Linked DNA regions of Homo sapiens. The protein of the gene in region 2 purifies or fractionates together with the protein of the main gene of each other region. This does not show direct contact. Each region holds a gene or a part of one and is shown on either strand. Other genes may lie near its edges. The genes, in order: CEACAM1, CLEC4M, CNTNAP1, ITGAM and NAPEPLD.

Region 1 (4,003 bases), about 35 Mb from region 2:
CTGGTATTGGGGTCCACAGATGCCAAATAAGGCCCCTGGAGTAGAGGAGAGGTTAAGACTGTGGCTGAAGACAAATCTCCTGTAACTGATCTTCCAGTTACGGTCTGTGTGACCTTGATATAGTGACTGTATTTATTGCCATGTGGCTCAGTTTCCCCTCAGTGAAATAGTATAAATGGTTAATGGTTTTGGCTTATCTTGTGGTCTGTGAATTAACCTTAAAATATTTATAATTATTTGACCTCAGCTCTGCATAGGGGAGCTGCCCAAATAAACAATCTTATTTTATTTTATTTTTTTGAGATGGAGTCTCGCTCTGTCACCCAGGCTAGGGTGCAGTGGTGTGATCTTGGCTCACTGCAACCTCTGCCTCCCAGGTTCAAGCAATTCTCCTGCCTCAGCCTCCTGAGTAGCTGGGATTACAGGCACGCACCACCATGCCCGGCTAATTTTTTTGTATTTTTAGTAGAGACGGCATTTCACCATGTTGGTCAGGCTGGTCTTGAACTCCTGACCTCATAGTCCATCCACCTCGGCCTCCCAAAGTACTGGGATTACAGGCGTGAGCCACCGCTCCCGGCCGCAGCATCTATTGTTGTTGGATTCCCTGAGAGTGCCTCTCAGCCTGATCCCTGGTGGACAAGGAGCTTTCAGGAGCATCCTGTCTCCTCTGTTCCTCCTCCTGGGGATGGTAAACTTCCTATGGCATCTCCTAAGCCCCCAGGGCAGTTGGCTGATGGCCTGGGGAGCTTGTCCATCTGTCCTCTCCAGGCTGAGACTAAGGTGAAGGATGAGGCTCCATCCTTGCCCAAATGAGGCTCTAGTGCCTGAACCCTGGCTGGTTACCAGCTCCAGGAGCCACAGCCCTCGGATAGCTCAAATTCTTGTTCCTAGTCAGCCCTGCCCAGGAGGCCACAATCTAGCCCTGGCCCAGGCTCCTCAGGGTCACCAGGAGTTGAGAACCTTGGGATAGTGTTTTGGAGCAGGGGATTCCCAGGGCTGAGCTTGTCTGTGAGGATCCCAGAAGGCCCTTCAGGCCAGACCCTGACTGAGTCCTACTGGGTCTTTCTTAGGGACATGTTCACCAGGAGGGTCCCGGGGGGCTAGATTGAGACTGGTCTCCCCTCGATAAGTTACCCACATCAGATTGTCCTTCCTCTGAAGCAAATGTCTGCAGGATCAGGACTCCAGAGTAAGACATTCGGTATTTTGATGTCTGTCCCATAGTGTGTCCTGCACTAGATGCTCAAACCTTAACATGGGGTATAATGCAGAGGAGGACACAGGCACAGCCCAGGCCTGACAATCCCATGTGTGGGAAGTAGAACTAACCCCCCAACACCCAGAGGTCATGGGGAAATACTCACGGTATACATGGAACTGTCCAGTTGCTTCTTCATTCACAAGATCTGACTTTATGACTTGTAGGGTGTAGAATCCTGTGTCATTCTGGGTGACGTTCTGGATCAGCAGGGATGCATTGGGGTATATTGTCTCTCGACCGCTGTTTGCGGGCCCTGGGGTAGCTTGTTGAGTTCCTATTGCATATCCTACAATTTGACGGTTGCCATCCACTCTTTCCCCTTTGTACCAGCTGTAGCCAAAAAGTTGCTGGGGCAGATTGTGGACAAGGAGAAGAACCTCCTTCCCCTCTGCAACATTGAATGGCATGGATTCAGTAGTGAGCTGGGCAGTGGTGGGCGGGTTCCAGAAGGTTAGAAGTGAGGCTAGGAGAGAGGAGAGAGCATCAGTCAATATTGGGACCTATGCATTAGGGTAGAAAAATGGGGCCTTGGGTCCTGAGCAGGTGTCTTCACCCCTCCACCTTGGAGTGTGTGTGTGTGTGTGTGTGTGTGTGTGTGTGTGTGTGTGTGTCCTACTGGGTCAAGGTCAGCAGTGTGACTCCCATTCCCTTAGTGCCTCTGACCTTGTCATTTCTCTGGAATGCCCTTCCCCAGGGATCCGCATGGCTCCCTCCCCACTGCCCTCAGATCTTGATCACATCAGGGTGCTCTTGGGAGATCCTTTCCCTGACACCTCCCCTAGAGACCCTGGGTATTCCCTTTCTGACCTTTTTCTGCTCTGTTCCCTCCAGGGCTCTTGTCAACACCTGACCTCACATTCTAGATCTCTTTGCTTGTCTGTCTTCCCCACCCATGAGAGCGTGAGCTCCGTGAGGGCAGGGATTTGTGTGATGTTGGTTGCACCCCAGTGCCTGGGATAGGCTGCAGACTCCTGTGGATGAGTTAGTGAGCATTCCCAGGGCTCTTCATGTCCTGGGGTTTATTTGCCAATATCTGAGGTTGGTGGCTCAGGGCTCTGTTTAATGCCCCTTTTAAAATGTTTTCCTTAATTGTCACGCTGACTTAAATTGTGATTATTGTCAGCAGTTTTTGAAATTTATTGCTCATTGATGATTCAGTTGGAAAAGGTAAAAAATGGGAGATTGTTTATTCACTAACAGTTTCAGATCACTGAGACTTTCCTTTTATGATCTCTATCCCTTTCATGTCCTCTCTCCTATTTGGCTCCAAGAGAAGCCCTCTGTCCCCTCTTAGAGCTCCATCCTCCCCAGAGGACCCTAGCCATTCTCTGTGCGCCCTCTTTCCGCCCCTTCCCAGGGTGTCCTCCCCTCACCTGTGAGCAGAAGCCCCTGCCAGGGTACACGCACTCTGTGAAGTGGGGCTGAGAGGTGCCCCATGGTGTCTCCTGCTGGCCCTGTCTTCACCTGTGGAGGAGAGCTTGGGCTCCAGGAACGCTTCGAGCACGGCTGCTCTGTCACCTCTGCTGTTTTCCACTCTCTGTGCTGAGCCTCCTCCCTGGGGCCCAGAGCTTTGTCTGATCATGTGTGCTGGGGCGGGGTTTGTCCAGGAAGCTCTGTTTCCTCTCCTCTCATTCCTACCTTTGTCCTTACTTTCTCTTTCCTTTCTGTCTACATTTTGGTTTCCCAGACCACACTTTGAGAATCAAGGCTGATGAGACCTCTGTCCCCATCAGGGGAGGAGGATCCCCCCTCTCCAGCACTGACCTCTATTGTGTCCTGGCTATGGGTCTGTCAGCAGCACACAGAGAACCCTGGCATATCCAAATGTGGTAATTATTTTCTTTGCAACACAGTGAGCTGCCAGGTCTCCCCATGCTCTTCAGTGTGCTGGGAAGGTAGGAAGACACCCAGCAGGAAGGTGACAGAGGTGGCTCTGGGGGATGGAAAGGGGCTCACTGGGGGATGACTGGGGAGGGACCAGCCCTCTGTCTCTAGTGTCACCAGCCTGGCCTCTAACCCAGGGACAGAGACCCAAGTCCAGGGGTCTCAGGTGGAGCTGCAGCTCCCGGATATGGAGGGGGAGGTGTCCTGTGTGTCCTGGGAAGAGAGGACTGTGATAGAGGGAGGTGGGTGGCTCTGGGCTCTACTGTCCTTGGGGAAGACTTCAGGGGGACCCTCCCTCCCTTGAGCTGAGGCTCAAGGCCTGTCCATGTTCTCCCTGACCATCCTGGGTGGTCTCTGTCCTCTGCGAGGCTGATTGTCCTGTGGTCACCGCACCTTCCCCACAGGTGGTGCCAGGAGGGAATGGGGAGCTGCACAGGGACCCCTCACAGAACAGGGTCCTCAGAGGACCCAGGAAGGGACAGAGCAGGTACATGGGAGGGCCTGGAAGGGTGTTTTGGAGCAAGGGATGGAAAGTGGGCTCTACCTTCACCTCCTTAGCAAAGCCAGGTTCATGACCAGGGGAATGTTTCCTGAGTGTTGTCTGTGTGCAATGTCTCCCCCTGGAGGGCAAGACAAGGCCTGCAGCCTTGTCAAGGGCTGCCCCAGGGATGCTGACCAGGGTCTACATGATGTGAGCTGGCCCTGACCCCTGGGCAGATGTGGGCTCTGACCTCCAGGCTTCAAGGTCAAGTCACCCCAGGTCCTGTTCACTGCGGGTCCCCAGGCTGCCCAGCTCCATGCGGTGCAGGATGAGCCCAGGGAGAGGACGTGAGTTGTCCAGAGGACTTCTGTCAA
Region 2 (4,193 bases):
CCGTCAGCTCCTGGTAGATCTCCTGCAGCTTGGATTTCTCTGGCAACTCACCCACTGCAGCCTTCAGCCGGGTCAGCTCCTGGTAGATCTCCTGCAGCTTGGATTTCTCTGGCAACTCACCCACTGCAGCCTTCAGCCGGGTCAGCTCCTGGTAGATCTCCTGCAGCTTGGATTTCTCTGGCAACTCACCCACTGCAGCCTTCAGCCGGGTCAGCTCCTGGTAGATCTCCTGCAGCTTGGATTTCTCTGGCAACTCACCCACTGCAGCCTTCAGCTGGGTCAGCTCCTGGTAGATCTCCTGCAGCTTGGATTTCTCTGAGAGCTCACCCACTGCAGCTTTAAGCTGGGTCAGGTTCTGGTAGATTGCGTCTTGCTCGGATTGTTCCTGACTTAGGGAGCTGGGGACCTTGGACACTGGGCCAAGAAGAAAAGGAACTGCAATTATTAAACACCTACTGTGTGCCAAGCCCTGAACTGAGCCCCATAGAGACATCATTTGTGAGAGCCAAGGTCTCAGTTAATCCCCTTTGAAGATGAGGAAAACTGACACCTGGAGAAGGCAGCACAGAAGGCCAAGGAGAGCCAGGTTCTTCCCCTCCTCCTCCTCCCTCTCCTGTCCTGCTCTAGAGTGGGGAGGGGCTGTGGGAGAGGCCCCTACAGACCCCCAGGGACAACATCTTGGCTCTCAGTCCCACCTCCCTCCCAGACCTGGCCACTCCAGGCTCTGTTCATAGCCAAAAGGCCAGGCCTGGGGACCCCAGACCCTCAGAACCTGCCCCTGACCTTGGACAAGGATGGCCACCAGGACCCCAGCCAAGAGCATGAAGGAGAGGAGTTGCAGCACCAGGGCGCCATGGCCAAGACACCCTGAGAGAGGATACATGCGTCAGCCTGCCAGTGTTCCCACCTGAGCCTGGCCCAGGGAGAGCCTGGCCTAATCCCTCAGCACCCCAGGACCCAGGAACCCCAGCCCCAGCCCCCTCCACTCCAACACCTGGGAATCCAGGCCCTAGCTCTAACCTCCCCAGGACCCAGGAACCCCATCCCCAGCCTCTCCCTCCCCAAGTCCCAGGAGTTTAGGTCCCAACCCCCACCTCCCCAGGTCCCAGGAACCCAGGTACCTGCGTCCACCTCCCCAGTGGAACAGGAATGAAAAGAAATTAAAGAATGTGTAAGCAAAAACTCAGTTGTATGTAAGAAAACCCAATTCCCCCTGAGGAAGAGAAAGAGGTGGAATCCTTTAAAAATTAACTGCCTTTTTGGCCAGGCATGGTGGCTCACACTTGTAATCCCAGCACTTTGGGAGGCTGAGGCAGGCAGATCACAAGGTCAGGAGATCAAGACCATCCTGGCTAACACAGTGAAACCCTATCTCTACTAAAAATACAAAAAATTAGCCGGGCGTGGTGGTGGTGGGCGCCTGTAGTCCCAGCTACTCGGGAGGGTGAGGCAAGAGAATGGCATGAACCTGGGAGGCAGATCTTGCAGTGAGCCGAGATGGCGCCACTGCATTCCAGCCTGGGTGACAGAGCAAGACTCTGTCTCAAAAAAAATAAATAAATAAATAAAAATAAAAACTAAATAAATAAAATAAAAAAGAATTAACTGCCTGTTTTTCTGTGTGTGGCTAGTGAGCCTTATCTCTCCCTTTCCCAGGCATTGTGAAGACCCTGTTTCTCTAGCTGTGCAGCTGCAAGGTCACTAGGCAGATAAACTCAAGTTGTAAAACATGTTTTTCCTTGAAAAATAAGAAATGACGTAATGCATGTCTCAATTGAATAACTATCTTTGTTTCTCGCTTCTGTAATATGCTTCCCCCTGCACAGATCTCCCCCTACCCCATGAAATGCTTAAAAGGTAACTTGACTCTTTGTTTGGGGCTCAGTCTTTTTGGATGTTAATCTGACTGGGCTGGTGCACCTAAATAATAATAATAATAATAAATCCTCCTCAACCCCTTGATCTCTGTGATTCCTAAATTATCCTGCAACACCAGGACTCAGGCATCCAGGTCCCAGCCTCCACATCTCCAGGTCCCAGGAGGAACCCAGGCCCAAGCTCCCACCTCCCCAGGTCCTAGGAACCCAGATACCTGCTTCTACCTCCCCAGGACCCACGAATTCAGGCCCCAGTTCTCACCTTCCCCAGGACCCAGTAATCTGGTCCCAGCTCCCACCTCCCCAGGACCCAGGATTCCAGTCCCCAGTTCTCACCTGCCCCAGGACCCAGGAATCCAGGCCCCTTCTCCCACCTCCTCTGGTTCCAGGAGTCCAGGCTCCAGTCCCTACCTCCCATGGACCCAGGTGTCCAGCTTCCAACCCCCACCTCTGTAGGTCCCAGGAGTCCAGAACCCCTCTCCCACCTCCCCAGGCCCCAGGAACCCAAGCCTCAACCCCCACCTCCCCAGGTGTGAGGAGTTCAGATCCCTACCCCGTCCTCTTCAGGACCCAGGAACCCAGGTCTCAGACCTTCCTTCCCCAGAACCCAGGATTCCAGACCCCAACACCTACCTCCCCAGGACCCAGGGGTCTGGGAGGCTCTGTCTTCCACTATCTGCTCCCTAACTCTTGCCTACCTGTAGAGCTCTTGTGGCCATGTATCTGCTGGAATTGAAAGTCTCTTGGAAAAAGTCTGATGCCACTGGTTGTTGGATCTTCTTCTGAATTGACAGACATCAGCTCAGAGCCTGGGCCATCCCTTCCCCTTACCCAGGATCCCAGAGTTCCAACCCAGCCTTACCCAGGAGGCCCAGCTGCTGCACCCTTGGTTCCTTGGAGTCACTCATGTTTTCCCGCTGTCCCCAGATGTTCAGGACTCCTGGGGACCACAGCTTTTATTTTCCACCCTCTGATCCTCACTTTCTAAATCTACTGTCTCTCAGGAAGACAAACAGGAAGCTGGGTAAGATCACATCACCAGAAAGGCTAGTGAAAGGAGTCAGAGCCTGAGATCGGCCTGACCTTGCAGGAATTTCAGGGAGGTGTTGGGGGATGGTCTGGGGTTGACAGGGAGAAGGACTCCTCCACTCATGACATGGTTGAGCGATGGGATGCTTTTAATAAAATTCAATTCATTCTAATGGAAAGCGACTTTGTTATGCCTCCCTACGTAGGGCAGGGGTGGGCAGGCAGTACCGCCTAGTTCCTGGAACCACCATGCCCTCTGACCTCCAGGATCTGCTCTTTTGGTCTGCGGATGCTCTCATTCATGGGAATTTCCTTTGTTTTTGGGAGTTGGAGATGAACGATAGTTGTTTATTTCATACCTATGATAGGCACATTTCCAACAGCTTTATAAAACTCCTTCATTTAACTTTCCTACCCTGCAGTAGATCATGTGACCTCCAGTTTACAGATAGGGGAAAATAGAGGCACTGCGAGATTAAGAAACTAGCCCAAGGTCACACAGCTGGTAAATGGTGGAGCTGAGATTCGAATCCAGGCAGTTTTCCTCCACACTCCACCCAGTTAACCAAAGAGGGTCTAATAACATCAAGGGCAAAATAGAAAGATTTATAGTAACTTTAGTTAGACTATCCCAACCCAAATTGGAACAACCCATGTGGCCACCAGCAGGTGAATGAAAACAAATATCATGGCATATTCAGAGGGTGGAATTCTATACAGTAATGAAAAAGCAAAGTACTGATACAAACAACAATTTGGATGAATCTCACAAGAGTTAAGAAACCCAAACAGAATGAATACATTCTGTAAGATTTTGAGTTTACATGAATTTCAAGAATAGGCAGAAGAACTAACCTTTGATGGGACTCAAATTGGGGGCTTTCTGGAAGGAGTGGGTGTAAACTGACCAGAATGGGGTAGAAGGAAATTTTCTGCTGACAATGTTCCATATTTTTTTCTGAGAAGTGGCTGCATGGATGAATTCATATGTCAAAATTTCTTCTCTTTCTTTCTTTCTTTCTTTTTTTTTTTTTTTTTTTGAGACAGAGTCTCGCTCTGTCACCCAGGCTGGAGTGCAGTGGCTGATCTGGGCTCCCTGCAACCTCCGCCTCCTGGGTTCAAGTGATTCTTCTGCCTCAACCTCCCGAGTAGCTGTGACTACAGGTGTGCGCCACCACATCTGGCTAATTTTTGTATTTTTATTTATTTATTGGAGACGGAGTCTCGCTGTGTTGCCCAGGCTGGAATGCAGTGGTGCAATCTTGGCTCACTGCGACCTCCACCTCC
Region 3 (4,306 bases), on a different chromosome or scaffold from region 2:
CCTTCTCCTCGGTCTTGAAGCTGAAGGCGAACACGTCCCACAGGCTTCGGCTGACCCCTCGCGGGAAGCGGTAGGAGATGGCATCGTCGCCGTCGAAATAGAGTATGTCGGCCTCTGCGCAAAGGACCGTAGGTGGGCCGGGAACTGGGGAGGCTGTCTCCCAGGCCCCCTCCGCGCTCTCTGCACACTTACTGTATGGGCAGCCATAGAGGCCGAGCCTCAGGCCGATCTTGCCGCGTGGGTTCCAGGCCAGGGGCACGATGCGGATGTAGCGCGCAGTGAAGTGGAAGTGCAGGTCATGGCGCACCACCGCCGACTCGTTCACGTTACCAAAGAAGGTCTGCGGGGGTGGAGGAGAGTAGTAACCACGTCCTGCCCTCTGCTTCTTTTTTTTATTTTATTTTTTGAGACAGAGTCTCGCTCTGTCGCCCAGGCTGGAGTGCGGTGGTACGATCTCGGCTCACCGCAACCTCTGCCTCCCGGGTTCAAACAATTCTCTTCCTCAGCCTCCCAAGTAGCTGGGATTACAGGCGCCCGCCACTACGCCCGGCTGATTTTTTTGTATTTTTCATAGAGACGGGGTTTCACCATGTTGGCCAGGCTGGTCATGAACTCCTGACCTCGTGATCCACCTGCCTCGGCCTCCCAAAGTGCTGGGATTACAGGCGTGAGCCACTGCGCCCGGCCCCCCTCTGCTTCTTTCTCCATAGCCTCCCAGCCCACAACTTTCACACCCAGCCAATCTCGACTTCTGGAAAGTAAACACTCCTTGGTCTTCCCTGCTTGGCGGCTTTGCCCGCACAGTTTCCATAAAGTGCCCTGTCCCACAATCCTATTATTTCCTCAGACCTGAAATCAAATGTCACCTCCTTAGGAAGCTCTCCCAGGTTTTACCCTAAAGTGTGTTAAACCCTGTGAACCGAGTGTTTCGCGCACGTCCTAAGCTGACAGTCCCTCTGGACAGAGTCCCTGGAGTGGAGTCACTGCTCCTTGTCCGAGCCCTCACCACCACCCCCTCCATTTTCCCAGAGGCTGGTGCCCGGCCCAGAGCCTGGAGCAGAGGAAGCTCCCCAAGTGTTACCGCCTTGGCGCCCAGAGTACCGAGTTGTGCCCTCGCTGGTAGAACGGTGTCCAGCTGTCCACTCGGTCGCCGTAGAGTAGCATGTAACGTGTGACCCAGTCCCAAGAATTAAAGGAGCCCTGTGTGGCCACGGCCCGGATCCGGTGCTTCTTCATTAAGTCTATCTGGAGCCAGGGATTCGGATCCCCAATCCGTGGTGACCACCCGCTTATGCCTATAGAAAGGACAGGAGCTTTAACCGGCTATCCCTCTCCCCGAAGTCCTCCGGAGGCCCCCACCCTTCCGCGGTGCGCTGCCAGTTGGCAGCTGATGTTCCGCGGAGCTCACCGTGCAGCCTGGCGAATCTCGGCGCAGTAAGGAGACTGTAGTAGGAGGAGGCGCCCAGGGAGCGTGCATACAGGGGACCCACCAGCTCCTCGTCGCAGCCGTCTAGGGTAGGGAAACCGACTGTTAGTCAGCGCTGGCCCCTCCCAGACCCTTCCAAAGGCCGGCCCACTTAGCGACCGAAGCTTCCCCTTCCGTGCCCCCAACCCCCGCCCCCAGAGGCACACCCAGCCCTACCTTAAAGCCATCTATTCAATCCTGGCTGCAGCAACAGCTGCATGCTCAGAGGAGGCTACCTTCTCCTTCTAGGCAAACCCCTAGGCTACACCTATAGGCCCAAGGCCAGACCCTCCCTAGCTAGCCCAATACCTGCCCTGGTTTAGTACTTTCCCAAACTCAATCCTAAACCTCAGCATCTTCCACAACCTAAGTCAACCCAAGACACCAATCCAGCTCCAACCCTAGCCTCAATCCAACTCGGCCCCCAAAACCTGCACCATCCCCAAATACAGGCCTTGCACCCAACCTCAGCCAGTGCTAGCACCATCACCAGCTCCATGTCCAGCCTTAGCATCAGTCAGGGGCACCAGCTCCTGCTTGGATCCCTGCCACAAAACCCAGCCCCAGCCACAAACCCCAGCCCTAGCCACAAACCCCACCCCTTGGCCAGCTCCAAAGTCCAGCCTTAAGCCCTGGCAAAACCTTAATCCTAGTATCGGTCACCAGTATACACTTATCCCCCAGCCCTAGCCTCAAACCCAGGCACCAGCTCCTGCTTGGATCCCAACCCCAAATCCCTGCCCGCTGACTTCATCCTCTTCCCAGAGCCCAGCCCCAGCCCCGGGCGCGCGCGGCAGCCTCAGAGCTGCAATGCGGAGCGCGGGGGAGAGGCAGGAAAAGATGAGAGCCAGCGGGCGCGCGCCGGCCGGGAAGGACCCGCGACCACCCAGCCGCAATGCGGTTCGGGGCCGCCCTGCAGGCTCTGGACTCCTGGGCCCAACCCCACCTGCCTCCAAGCCCAACACTCACAGTAGCCCCAGCCCTCGGCTCCTGAGACCGCGGCGAGCAGGATGCAGAAGAGCCGGAGATGCATCATGCAGGGCTGACGGTCCCGGCAGCCGCCTCCCTGTGAACGGCTCCGGCTAGGGCTCGAGTTCTGGCTTGGGCTCCAAGCTCTCCTCCTGGGGTTTGCAGCAGACCGCTCTCTCCTCCTTACCCACCCTTCCCTCCCTCTCTCCTTTCGCCCCCAAGCGCTCTGTCTCTCCTCTCTCTTTTCTCTCTCTCTCTCTCTGGTTCCTGGTCCTCCGCTCTTCTCTCTCTATCCTCTCCTTTCCACCCTCTTTCCTCTCACCTCCCCCCTTCCCCAGCCTCTGTCTCCTGGCACGCGCCGGTTTCCCGGACCCCGCGCAAGCGCGTGCCTCAGCCCTGCTGCGAAAGGGCGGGGGTAGAGAGCCTCTCGCCACCGGGAAAACCCCAAGTAACCCGAGGCTGCCCGGGACTAGGGCCACAGGAGTGAGGACAGGGAACCTAGGGCCAGAAGCATCCTGAAAATTTCAAGAAAAGGGAGGTGGTTTGGGGGAGGGGTGCCTGGAAATGGAATGAAGGGTAAGTAAAAGAATCTTAACATTTTCGGAAGGCAAATTATGCTCTAGGAGTGGTGCTGGGCACTGTGAATTTAGCATTTTTGCCCTACTCCACTTTGCAGATGAAAAACCTCAGGCTCAGAGAGGTCAAGAAACTTAGTCAATATCACACAGCAAATGATTATATTCCGAAGCCCGTTCTTTCTTCACTGACAAAGACAGTAAATTATTTTTTCTTTCTTTCGTTCATTCTTTTTTCTTTCTTTCCTTCCTTTTTTTCTTTCTTTCTTTCTTTCTTTCCTCTTTCCTTCCTTTCTTCTTCTTTTTTTTTTTTTCGTAAAATCCAGATCCTGCACAAGAGAGTGAAGTCTTTTGGAGGAGGTGGAATGGGAAAGTGACCCCGTAGACCCTAATCCCCACCTCCCTCTCGGCCCCTCTCCCCGCCTCTTCCTTCCTGTCCCGCTAGTAGTTTAACTTCTACCCCCTGTGGCTATACCTCAGAAACCTGTGTAGCCAGAGATGGGGACGGAGGCCACAGAGCAGGTGGGAGTGGGGGCAGGGAGGGGGAGAAGGGTTACAGAGAGGGAGGAGACAGGGAAGGAATGGGATTCCCCACCTGGCAATGGGCCTCTGCCATCCTATGGCTTATTCAGGATTCTTGGCGCTGTCTCAGACTAGGGGTCCTCCAGATAAATGGGCTGGTGGTGTGAGGCTGGGGTTGTGGGACAGGGACTAGGGCTGAGGGGAAAGGCGGGTTGAACCTAGAGGTCCAGGGTCCCACCTGGGCCCTGAAAACCTGAGTCCCAACCCTGGAGACCCCCTTGGCATGAGTGGTTCAGTGTGCTGGTATTGGAGGTACAGGGAAGGTGGGTATGGAAGGGAAAGAAGAGAAACAGAAACCCACTCCAGACGGAGGTTGGAGTCCAGGGCTCAGGTCTGAGGCAAAGCCTGCATATGGGCATCCTTCCAGGAGAGGGCGCTGCAAAGGGAACTGAAGCTGTAGGATTTATTAATAATACAAACTTTGGGCTGGGCGTGGTAGCTCAGGCCTGTAATCCCAGTACTTTGGGAGGCCAAGGTGGGCGGATCACCTGAGGTCAGGAGTTCGAGACCATCCTGGCCAACATGGTGAAACCCCATCTCTACTAAAAATACAAAAATTAGCTGGGCGTGGTGGTGGGCGCCTGTAGTCCCAGCTACTTGGGAGGCTGAGGCAGGAGAATCTCTTGAACCCGGAGGCGGAGGTTGCAGTGAGCCGAGATCGTGCCACTGCACTCCAGCCTGGGCGACAGAGCAAGACTCTGTCTCCAATAATAAT
Region 4 (3,515 bases), on a different chromosome or scaffold from region 2:
CTGCCACCTCTTAAATACGCTTGTTTCACCCAAATTCTTGGGTTTGCTTCTGGGAGAACCCAAACTTCCAGGAACATATCCTATAAATTATCCTTACATATATGCAAAAATGACATATATTTGATTTATTAACTCAGCATTGATGCAATAACAAGAGAATGAAAATAGTATATCAAAAGAAGACTGGTTAAATACATTATGGTACACTCACACAATGGAATACTATGCAGCGGTATAAAAGAATGAAAAAGTAATTTATGTCTTAATATGAACCGATGTCTGAGAAATATTGGTGAAAAAAAGCAAGATACAGACCAATATAAAGTATGCTACCATTTGTGTAAAAAAGCTTGTGTGTGTGTATGTGTGGTGTGTGTGCACACGTGCATACACTTGCACATCGCCTGGAATCTGTCTGAAGGAAACCTCAAAACACAATCTTGACTACCTTTAAGGAGGTGACTTGAATATCTGGAAAGGGAGACTTTTCACTGTACACTTGAATGCCTTGTGATTTTTGTACCATAGACAAGCTTATCCATCCAAAAAATTAAAGTCACATTGAAATAATAAATGAATCCAGAAAGGAAGCTTCATCATTCCTCAGTGGGCATCTTTATTGGGCATCAGCGCTGGTGTGGAGGAGGTTCCTGGTTCCACCCACGGCTTCTCATGGAGTCTCCATCCAAGCTGCGCAGGCTCCAGCAGGCCGCAGGCTCGCAGGCGACGGGAAGTCCCACTTCTTTCAGTGGAGAGAAGCTGCTGTGTTTCCCTCTGTCTTCACCCACAGGATTGACCGTCCCCTCTCCCGGAGGAAAACCCAGCAGCGGCTTCACCCACGCACAAGGGAGCCCAGGCAGTTCCCTTCTGCCGGAGAGGCTACGCTGCCGTCACCTACCCACACGCCAGAGACATCTGAGTCACACACGTGAGCCACACGCCCCTGAGCACACACATGCACACACTCGCACACATGCACACACTTGCACACACATGGACACACGCACACACACTTGGACACACTCACATACTTGCACACACTCACACATGGGCGTGCAAGTGCACATGCACGCACACGCACACATGTGCACACACTTGCACACAGACACTTGCACACACGCACATACACACTTGCACACACACAAATGGAAGCCCAAGCCCGTCCTGTCGGGGATACTTCGCTGTCCGACGTGTCCAGCAGCCTGGGGGCTACGTGTGGTCTGGGCAGAGTCCTGCTGGCCACCGAGAGGCAGCTCTGTCGGGAAGGAGCCGCTACTGGGGTTCGGCCCCCGGGGGACCCCCTTCACTCATCATGTCCTTGTATTGCCGCTTGAAGAAGCCGAGCTGCGGGGCAGAGGAGGGCAGTGAGAGCGACAGCAGCCAGGGAGCGTGCGGCTCCGCAGACCAGGGGGAGGGGGCGGGAGGGCCGGCAGAGACAGAAGGGACCCAGGAGGGCGGGGCGGGAGGGGAGTGACATCCGCGTCGGGGCCTGGAGAAAAACAGAAACTACAAGGAGGGCGACTCGTTCTCAGCGCGCCCCGCGCATGAACCCGGCCACCCTCCCTAAGAGACTGAGGCGCAGAGAGGCTCCCAGACTCGCCCCAGTCACACAGCTGGCAGCCCCGCCGGGGAAACCGAGGCACGGAGCTGCAGCGCGAGGCCCGAGAGGATGAAGGGAGGGGGTGGGGGAGCAGCGGGGAGCACCTTGTACAGCGCGGCGGTGATGAGGGCCAGGAGCAGCAGTCCCCCGACAGAGCTGCCCACGATGAGCGGCAGGGGGTTGGGGACCTCGAACGGCTCCACTTTGGTCTCCGTCTGGGGGAGGAAGGAGGGGCGTCAGGGGAGACGACTCTGGATTTCTGGGGGTTCCCCATTCACACCGTGTGCACCCCTGAATCAAGTGGGGAACCCCTCCTCATGTCCCCCAGAACCCCAGCCCTCAGTCCTCCTCCCCCACCTCTTCTCCCTCCTCTCCCTCCTCCGTTTCTCTGTCCTCTATCTCTCTCTATCGCTTTCTGCCTCTCTCTGTCTCTCTATCTCCATGGCTCACTGTCTCTGTCTCTGTCGCGCTCTGTATCTCTCTCTTTATCTCTATCTCTCTGTCTATCTCCATCTCTCACTGTCTCTGTCTCTATCTCTATCTCTCTGACTCTCTATCTCTCTCTCCTTTGTCTGTCTCTGTGTCTGTTTCTCCCTCTGCCTCTATCTCTCTGTCTCTGTCTGTCTCTCTCCTTACGTCTCTGTATCTCTCTGTCTCTCTGTCGCTCTGTCTCTCTCTCTCCCTCTCTCTTTGTGTCTCTCTCTCCTCCCCCAGAAATCTCCACAAGCGCAGCCCCTCTCCCTCCAATAGTTCCTCAGCGCCCAAGACAGGTACCTGGGACCTCACAAACGCCCCCTGTCCCGGCAGCAGGGTGAACACGGAATCGTTAAACAAGATCTCAGCTGTGCTCACGATCAGGAGGTGGTTATGCGAGGTCTGTGGAAGAGAGCGGGTGGGCACTGCACCTGGGCCCTGAGCACCACGCCTGTGCCCGGCGAAGCCTCAGGACCCCACACACCTTGATGTACCAGTCAAACGAGAGGTTGCCTTTGAGGGTAGCATTGAATTCTTCCTGGATGCCAAAGAACGGGATGTCACACTGGATTCTCTGGCAGACAGCGATGGAGCAGTTCTGGGGAACGCAGGAGGGGAGGGGACGGGTAAGGAAGCCGAAGGCAGAGAACACCCCTCCCCGTTTGCTCAGAGACCATACAGGTTCCAGCAGGGAAGCGCTCTGGGTCTCTGTGTGGCCCTGGGGCTGACTTAGCTTCTCACCACCACGGGGGCCTTCCGAAGCTCAGCCAGAAAGTCGGAGTGAGAGGGCAAGCGCTCCTTGGTGTGGCACGTACTCGAGAGGTTCTGAGGAAAGAGACGCACTGAGAAGGGGCAGAGATGAAGGCGCCAGGGCCTCATCTCGGGAGGTGAGATGGCCTGGGTCCAGGAGAGGGGCGGAGCGGCTCTAAAACCCAATAGCATTAACAGAGGTGAGAGGAACGCGCAGGGCCGTGCAGGAGTCAGGCCGAGCTCCGCTCACCTCGGAGAAGGTGACCTGGGGGCGGTCCCATATGACAGTCTGGTTCAGCCGGACGGGCACCAAGAACACCAGGCTGATGGGGAGGCTCCTCTGCCCCAGGTTGCTGACCTGCACCGGGGAGGGCGGGGTCAGGGCTCTGGCCTTCCTCCCCCACCAGCCTGGAGAATCAGCCTCCCCTCCCCACGGGGCAGGCCATAGGCCCGGGCGTCCTGCCCCTTCCTGTTTGAGAGAGTAGAGTGTACATGTAATACGCATTCCAGTGCCACACGGCCTGGTCTCCAGTCCTAGCTCTCCCACTTACTCGGTGGGAGACCTCGAGCTTGTTCTGTAAACCTCTCTGAGCCTCAGTTTCTTCATCTGTAAACTGGGGATCATGACAGTGCCCCACAGAGTCGCTACGAAGGTAATACAAGATAACTACGTGCGTGCATGTCACATACA
Region 5 (2,427 bases), on a different chromosome or scaffold from region 2:
AGGCACAGTGAGCACTGGTGACTTGTTTCAGGTTACACAAAAAAATCCATGATGAAAGCAGGGTAAAAGTTCAGATTTAGTGGCTAACGTGGCACCACACATACAGGTGTGCAAATAAATTATAGAGCACTGCCTGGGTAGCATTTGGTGTAGAAAACCTATTTTGATTATTTTGTATGAATAAAGTGCTGAGACTGGATTAGGAATACAGAATGGGCCTCCAGTGGTATCTAATCCACCTCCCTCCCTTAGGAAGGGTCAGAATAATCAAGTGAATACAGAGTCCTTATTAGGACTAAATCTTATGTCAACTGACTCCCCCCCCGCCCCCCAACCACTGGCATTCATACTGGCTTACCAAAAGAATCATGCTTAAGGTTCATTTAATATAAAAATGTAAGACATCTGAATCAGGTAAAAAAAATTATAAATCTGATTGATATATTTAGAGCTAAGAGACTCCAGGAAAAAAAAAATGTGTAGAGAAAATTAAAAACAAATTTAATTCAAAGAATATGGTCTATTAACATTTTGTCTGTAAAATATTTCATTGTAGCTGTATTTGTGCTTAGAAGATCTTCTAGATTTAAAAACAGAAAATGGCATAAATCATATTCTCATAGCCACACTCCTTCCCTTCCTCTGCTCAGCTAAGGAGAGGGCTTTCTTTTGAGACAGGGTCTCATTTTGTCGCCCAGGCTGGAGTGCAGTGGTACGATCACAGCTCACTGCAGCCTCTATCTCCTGGGCTCAAGTGATCCTCCCACCTCAGCCTCCCAAGTACCTGTGACTACAGGTACACACCACCTCACCCGGCTTTTTCTTTTTTCTTTTTTTTTTTCCGAGAGAGACGGGAGGTCACCATGTTGCCCAGGTTGATGTCAAACTCCTGGGTTCAAGTGACCCACCCACCTTGGCCTCCCAAAGTAAGAGGTCTTTTGGGAATTGTAGACGTGCAATAGAATATACTGTTCCCTCTCATCTGAAGGCTCTAGGAAAAAAAGAATATACTGTTCTTTTAAAAATTTAAGTGAATGGTGGTCATGGGTGCATTAATGCGAAAGAACTGTACACTTAAAAATGGTTAAAATGGTAAATGTTTAAAATGGCAAATATGTATTTATATATTTTACCACAATAGAGAAAATCAAGTCTTTAAAAATGATAGCCCCTATGTTTTTATGCTTACCTAAATAAACCATATTTAATATTTGGCATATAAGCTAATTTGATAGAGCAAGAATTGCTATGTTTATAATAAGCATGTTGGACTGAATTTCATCATTTATTAGAATGTGCATATAAGAAAGATACTTGTATTTGTAGGCCTCTGAAAAACATCTAGGTAGGTAGAGAGCCTTGACTCACCTTGCCGAAGGTCCTGAAGAATGGAAAAAAGAAAAATGAATCTTCAATATCGGTTTTTCACCTCAGGAAATTCTAGTACCACAAAAATATAATGTTTTAGTAAAAACATTTCCATTGCAGTGCTTATATCATGATATGAAATTTAAAATCCACATTAGCCAATTCATTATTTAAATGACCCACCCCTGAACCCTCTCATAGTGTACATGAGCTGATCATACTAGGAAGCAAGTTATTACACAAAACATAAAACATAAACTTGCAGAAGTTGTTTCCAAATGTAAAATAATCACAATATTCATGAATTTCTAAGTCTTTTCATTTGTTTTTAAACTTAGATGATGCCTTTTTCATTAAAAGTGCCTGTGCTCACATTTATTAAAAGTTTTCATCATCATTATTTAGGTATCTTGATTCTCCATGCTTCAAGACAAAAAAATCTTCAGCGTTAAGTCCGTATCTCTCTAGAGCTTCATTCAGCTTCACTGGAGGCTCTAAGTAATGCTGGCCAAAGAGAAAGAAGAAAAATAGAAAAAGATTAAACATATATTTGGGAGATTTTCCAAATAACAGTTCAAACTAAAATAACCAACAGATGCCTAGTTAGAATTAGGCCCTTTCTTTTAATTGAAGCATTAGCAAATGGGTCTATCACATTTTCTAATACAGTTTTGAGTCATGAATTAAGTCAACAGGTATTTGGTTGGATAGAAATCATGCCAACACCATGTATGTGAAATTTGGTGCCATCTTACTTTGAACATCACTGGATTGCATGAAATCATCACGGTTTCACCATATGAAATTCCAATCTAGATGGAATCAGTGCCAAAGATGATGTTATTAGAGAATTACATGTTACTAACATTTTTGAAAAATATAGAAATCAAATTGTGGTGTGTGTGTGTGTGTAACCAAATGCTAGAGCAAATTGTTTTGCTGAAGAAGGGTTGTTATCCTCAAAAAGTCTAGTCACATACAGAAACCACAGTCTACAGAATGAAAGAGGATCCCAGAGAATATGAAGGTTGAGCTCTGTGTGGCAAAGAGGAGTCAAGA

The links.
Region 1: the proteins of CLEC4M (region 2) and CEACAM1 purify together in Homo sapiens (co-immunoprecipitation; one study listed by IntAct). This does not show direct contact.
Region 3: the proteins of CLEC4M (region 2) and CNTNAP1 purify together in Homo sapiens (affinity purification with mass spectrometry; one large-scale study listed by BioGRID and IntAct). This does not show direct contact.
Region 4: the proteins of CLEC4M (region 2) and ITGAM purify together in Homo sapiens (co-immunoprecipitation; one study listed by IntAct). This does not show direct contact.
Region 5: the proteins of CLEC4M (region 2) and NAPEPLD purify together in Homo sapiens (affinity purification with mass spectrometry; one large-scale study listed by BioGRID and IntAct). This does not show direct contact.

Annotation. Positions count from the first base shown.
Region 1 is NC_000019.10:42,525,674-42,529,676, forward strand, and holds the start of CEACAM1 (cell adhesion molecule CEACAM1 isoform 1 precursor), read right to left. Parts: upstream 2,809-4,003; 5' UTR 2,702-2,808; coding exon 2,638-2,701; intron 1,728-2,637; coding exon 1,368-1,727; intron 197-1,367; exon of another isoform or gene 1-196.
Region 2 is NC_000019.10:7,761,859-7,766,051, reverse strand, and holds the start of CLEC4M (C-type lectin domain family 4 member M), read right to left. Parts: upstream 2,810-4,193; 5' UTR 2,786-2,809; coding exon 2,740-2,785; intron 2,660-2,739; coding exon 2,576-2,659; intron 868-2,575; coding exon 784-867; intron 415-783; coding exon 1-414.
Region 3 is NC_000017.11:42,681,025-42,685,330, reverse strand, and holds the start of CNTNAP1 (contactin-associated protein 1 precursor), read right to left. Parts: upstream 2,801-4,306; 5' UTR 2,502-2,800; coding exon 2,435-2,501; intron 1,511-2,434; coding exon 1,409-1,510; intron 1,296-1,408; coding exon 1,102-1,295; intron 341-1,101; coding exon 193-340; intron 115-192; coding exon 1-114. Other genes in the region: CCR10 (C-C chemokine receptor type 10), read left to right, coding at 3,508-3,531. UniProt on the Homo sapiens protein: Required, with CNTNAP2, for radial and longitudinal organization of myelinated axons. Plays a role in the formation of functional distinct domains critical for saltatory conduction of nerve impulses in myelinated nerve fibers.
Region 4 is NC_000016.10:31,329,465-31,332,979, reverse strand, and holds the end of ITGAM (integrin alpha-M isoform 2 precursor), read right to left. Parts: intron 3,183-3,515; coding exon 3,075-3,182; intron 2,900-3,074; coding exon 2,816-2,899; intron 2,673-2,815; coding exon 2,559-2,672; intron 2,477-2,558; coding exon 2,375-2,476; intron 1,816-2,374; coding exon 1,705-1,815; intron 1,345-1,704; coding exon 1,273-1,344; 3' UTR 103-1,272; downstream 1-102.
Region 5 is NC_000007.14:103,101,683-103,104,109, forward strand, and holds part of NAPEPLD (N-acyl-phosphatidylethanolamine-hydrolyzing phospholipase D), read right to left. Parts: intron 1,873-2,427; coding exon 1,747-1,872; 3' UTR 1-1,746. UniProt on the Homo sapiens protein: D-type phospholipase that hydrolyzes N-acyl-phosphatidylethanolamines (NAPEs) to produce bioactive N-acylethanolamines/fatty acid ethanolamides (NAEs/FAEs) and phosphatidic acid.